Linked DNA regions of Homo sapiens: region 2 is linked to region 1. The links come from fine-mapping of genetic effects on gene expression. Tissue or cell type: pancreas. Region 1 holds a variant in brackets; the other region holds the start of a gene. All regions are shown on one strand. Distances are from middle to middle.

What was found. PIP is the estimated chance that this variant, and not a neighbour inherited with it, causes the effect.
Region 2: it holds the start of PHACTR2, and the variant in region 1 is fine-mapped to the expression of PHACTR2 in pancreas (GTEx, PIP above 0.99).

What each region holds. Positions count from the first base shown.
Region 1 is chr6:143,763,559-143,766,249 of GRCh38, forward strand. PHACTR2 (phosphatase and actin regulator 2) reads left to right here. Exons shown (of 13, transcript NM_001100164.2): 6 at 1,703-2,240. Among named protein-coding and RNA genes, the nearest start is that of LTV1, 78 kb to the right of the region's middle. The variant G/A (reference allele first, on the strand shown) is at 1,699.
Region 2 is chr6:143,676,524-143,679,214 of GRCh38, forward strand. PHACTR2 (phosphatase and actin regulator 2) reads left to right here and starts at 1,442. Exons shown (of 13, transcript NM_001100164.2): 1 at 1,442-1,686. The coding sequence starts at 1,641. RefSeq lists an enhancer at 786-1,634 and a silencer at 1,384-1,683.

The DNA.
Region 1 (2,691 bases):
GTTGTTTTCTATAAAGTAACAGGTCTAGATTTGGGGAAGAAGAATTCTAGTTATGTATATCTTAAACGATAAAGACCCCAAAACCATAGGGATTCCTTTTAAGCCTGGAACCTGTCACTAAATAAGACTGGCTTCTTTAGTATCAGTCTAATCAGAATAAATGAAGTCTTACATCTCATTGTCTATTCTTTCATTTATTCTTCATCTCTTCACCCTCCCAATTGACTTCAATAAAGTCATAACTGGAGGTAAGTTATAATAACATCTGTATACAGTGTGGATTGGCTTCACAATGCTAACAAGATGTTTTCTAATCGTTCTGTGAAAGATAGTTGAACCCTTCATGAAGAGAAGGAGCATAACAACATTATAACAGAAGAAGCCATTAGGATAAATTTATAGGTCATGAAAGAAAAGAGTATTCTCATAGGAGTTTATTTTATCATCATATATTTACTAAGATGACATAAAGAAAAAAGTAGTTAATCTTTTTGTTTTGAAACTGTTTTGATTGAGGGTGCCCTATCCGGAAGTAGGCAAATATACCATAGCTATCCTTCGATGAAGACCTTCTTGGAACTTAAGCATTAAGGAAGATCACATTTGCGAAGGTGGAGTCAGAAGACCTGAGAATGATATCCTTTCCATTCACATTATTTAGAACCAGACACGGTGGCTCACACCTGTAATTCTTTGGAGCCACCAAAGCCTCTCACTTTGGGAGGCTGAGATGGGTGAATCCCTTGAGCCCAGGAGTTCAAGACCAGCCTGGGCAACATGACAAAACCCTGTCTCAACAAAAATACATTAAAGTTAGCCAGGCATGGTGGTACACACCTGTAGTCCCAGCTACTCAGGAGGCTAAGGCAGGAGGATCACTTGAGCCCAGGAGGCAGAAGTTATAGTGAGCCGATATTGCACCACTGCATTCCAGCCTGGGCGACAGAACAAGACCTTGTCTCAAAAAAAAAAAAAAAAAGGAGCAACCCATGTAAATAGGTTTTGTAAACAACAAGTTTTTTTCTGGCCTTTTGATGCTTTGAAGGGAGTGTACCTTTCCTGTGTGGCCATGGGTTTTCCCTTTACCCCATCTCTACTGCAGATGGAAGTAGAGTCCAGCATGGCGAGCTTTCTTCTCTGGAGCTACTGGAAAGCTGGTGTGGATTTTCTCTTTTAGCAGTAAGATGAGTGATTTTGTTTTTGACCCAGAAAGAAGCTGGATATATACCCCAGTCTCTTCTGAATACAGGCCACCACTCTATTCCTAGAAAGACAGCATAGAACATGTATAATTTATGATGAGCCTAATTGTGTGCTACACCCAGCTAGCTGCTGATGTCTGTCCTTTACGCACCATAACATTCCTTCTTGAGAGCATACCGGGCTTTTTTCAAGTGAACCATAGACAAGGGGCAGAAGATTCTCCCTTTGGCTGGCTCAGCTAAAGACTAAAGTGAGAGAAGACAGAGGACTCTTGTTCCTCTGAGTTTTGCCGTAAATATCACTTGCTCCTTGCTGGATTGGAGGAAGGGAGGGGCAGAAGACAAGACTATTATCATGATTAGCCTATTTTCTCTTATACATTTATTCAACAAACTTTAAAGGGAACATTTTAAATGTTGTTGACAGTTACACCTTGGTTACTTTATTTTAAAAAGCATTGTATTCTTTGATTTTTTAATGCAAGGTCTCTCTATT[G/A]TAGCTGGCTCCTCTCATTCAAAAAAAACAACTGGCTCTAAAGCATCAGCTTCGCCATCCACTTCATCCACCTCATCTCGTCCCAAAGCTTCAAAGGAGACAGTTTCTAGCAAAGCAGGGACAGTGGGGACCACCAAGGGCAAGAGAAAAACTGACAAGCAGCCAATAACTTCTCACCTGTCCTCAGACACAACAACTTCTGGCACATCCGACCTGAAAGGAGAGCCTGCAGAGACCAGAGTGGAGAGTTTCAAACTCGAACAGACTGTCCCTGGAGCTGAGGAGCAGAACACAGGCAAATTCAAGTCCATGGTCCCTCCACCCCCTGTGGCTCCAGCACCTTCTCCTCTGGCCCCCCCTCTCCCTCTTGAGGATCAGTGCATTACTGCCTCAGACACTCCAGTTGTCCTCGTCAGCGTTGGAGCTGACCTGCCCGTCTCTGCCTTAGACCCAAGTCAGCTTCTTTGGGCTGAAGAGCCGACGAACAGAACCACTCTCTACTCAGGCACTGGCTTAAGTGTTAACAGAGAAAATGCAAAATGGTGAGTTGGGGAACAAACCCCCTATTTTATCTGAGAACTAAAGATCACTAATATATTCTGTTGGAAATGAAGCACCGGGTTTGCTTTCTTATATAATTTAATCTACTGAGTGTTAGGTAGGCATACATGTGATCCAACCATTGCTTTGTCAGAGCCCTGCCCTGGGAATGCCTAGGGCTGCTGGAGAAAATTACATTGGTAGAGCTGACAAATACCACTTGAGATCAATGTTTTCAAGTACACTTAGAACCTGCTTCAGCACTGCTCAGCAGTCCACAGTTCCCTTCTCTTTCCTTTCAGTGCTTATTTTAAATCTTTACTTTACCATTGTGCTTACCTACTCATGTCAGCAAGTTACTGAGCCTTCCCCTTCACCAAGAACATAAAGAAGATCAGAAGAGAACTCTCAAATTTGAACTCTTTTTTCTCCATCAGTAGAGTTGTCCCCTTT
Region 2 (2,691 bases), 87 kb before region 1:
ACTTACCTTTAACCACTTTTGTTTGTTTGTTTTTTTCTTACGGCAACTCAAAGCAAAGAGCTGGAGGAGCCAGCCATTATAATTGCTTACTCTCATCGCTTAGCGCCCCAGGTGGGATGTGTTTCCAAAACACATTTTTGTATTTATAAGGAAATGTAGTTAGGATTAATTTTATTGTCCTAATTAGAACTCACATTTTGGTTAAATCCTCAATTTCATTAAAAAAAAAAAAATCAGTGTTTCTTAAGAGTGAATTAGGCAAAGGGAAGAAGACAATGGATCACACTTTTTTAGGGAAAAGATCTTCCTCACAGTGGTGGGTGGGCTATTTGGGTGTGAAAAAACATAGGGCAACTTAATTAACCATGACAAAACAGACAAGTAAGTGCCTTTCAAAAAAATCAAACAAGGCTCTGCACGATCTTAATAATAAAAATTTTAGAAAAAAATGATTTTCATGTTAGTTCAGAGTTGATTGTCTAGGATAAATTAAAAAATGAAAGCTGTGGTAAATGACCTAAATATATTGCACTTTCTGATATTTTTTACATTTTAATGAAATATATGCCTTCAGCAAAGTGCACACATCATTACAGACATCTCAATGAATTTTCATAAAATGAACACATCCAGTAACCACCATCCAATCTAATGCACCATATACAGATGTTCCATATACTGTATATATATATACACACATTATATATATATAGCATGAAGATTACTTATACTAATTAATCATTAACTGTAAATATGAAGAATATTTATTTGTATTCATATTTTTAAGAAGATTGAGATTTAACAGGATATTATAGAAGGGTTTAATTCACCTTTCAAGTTTGTTATAGTTTTTTTCCCCTTTTGTGTATTTTAATCACTTTATTTCACAGTAATTCTTTTGAAATAAAGGAGAGGTCAGCACTCCAGAGTTTTAGGTGGGAGACAGCAAAAAGTATATTTTGTTGATCTCACACGTAGACCTACCATTTAGATTTGTTGTCAAGCCTGATTGAGGCCATTAGTGCCGTTTTTAAAAAATTATATTTGTTAAAAGGAAGATAATTTTTAAAACGAGAAAAAAATGGGCACAAGACATGAGAGTGCCACAATACTGCAAATAGAATGTAAGGAAGGAAATAACTTTTAAGAAACAAATTTTGTTAAATTAAGTACCGTGACTAAATACTTTAATTCCTTTTCTTGTAGCCCGTAAGGATCATTTGACTTTGAACCTTTTAAGTCAAAGAGGAGTAGTCTGAAAGCCTGAACTCCCTACCACCCTGAGGGGGTGCGGGTGCGGCGGGGCCGGCTGGGGGCTTCCCCCACCCCCTGCTCCTGCGCCCTCCCCCCGCTTCCCCCTCCTCCCCTCCCTATCGCCCTCACCCCCCTTCTTCCCCCGTGACCCCTGACCCCAGCTAATCTGCATAGAGGAATGACAGGCATCCGCTGGGCAGGATCCGCCGCGCCGGCTGCGGCCGGCCGGGCTGGGAGACCCGCGCGGGGTAGAAGGTGAGGGGACCCGGCGGGCCGCTCGGCACAGGCCGGGACATGAACGCCTGGAAGTCTGGCTGGGAGCGGACCCATGATCGAAGGACCAAAGGAGCCGCTTGATCGCTGGACCTGGCCCTGCGACCCCAGTCATGGGCCAGACCTCGGTGTCCACGCTGTCCCCGCAGCCCGGCAGCGGTGAGTCCGGGGCGCACGCGATGCGCTCCCGCCGCGCGGGCGCAGGGCTGGCGGCGGGGCCCCGGGGCAGGCAGGGTTAGTCGTCTGGTCGGGTTCCGCTCGGACCCGCCAAGTCCCTCGGAGAAACCCCAGAGGTAGCGCTCGCCAAACTCTTTGTCGTGAAAGAGGAATGCCTTTTGGGATCCAGCCGATTTTACCTTAAAGGCACAGGCTCCATTTTTCTGTGCGCGATGCCTCGCTGTGGTTTTTTATCCAAATTATTTCGGAGCCAGAAACTTACGGGAAACGCCATTTGCGTATTACAGTGTTTTTAAAAACGCGAAACTTAGAGAGCAAGAGAAACATGCCAACAGGTTTTTCTGTATTTACGCTTGGCTTCCGAACAGACTAGGACTGAATGCTTTCAAGCTTGTCAACTGATTTATGGTTTGTTATTCGGAGTAGAAGCGCTGATCGCCTTATCCTGGCAGACGCTGAATACTTAATAACTAGCCCCGAAATGCGTAATTGTTTCAAATGAGACTTGTTTTGTTTATAGTAGATACAGCAGCTATAACATTTAGGGAAACATATCTCATGAACTTAGTTCTCCAGGACTAAAGTTAGTTTTATGGAGACGTGTGTAACGTGTCTGAGTTCTAATGCTCTGTTTTAAAAGTTTCTTTTTTCCATTTTCTTAAACAAAAAGAGGGAAGGAAGGTACGTCTGGCATTTCCCCGACAGTGTAGGGATAAAAAAAAAAAAAACTGTTTGGTGGTGTTACTTGTGATTGGATAAGGAAATAAATTTAAAAGGTACTATTTTGATATTTTTCCATCAACGATTAAAAATAAATAATACTCGAAGGGACCGTTTATGTTACTCATTGAGATATTTGATACACTTTTTAAATTGTGCAAACATCAACAGGATCTTGCTGAAAGGAAATGACAGGGTACAGAGGAAGGTTTTTTAATCTGCCTCAGGATGTCTAGCTAGATAGCATTCTGTCATTCCAACCCCCCA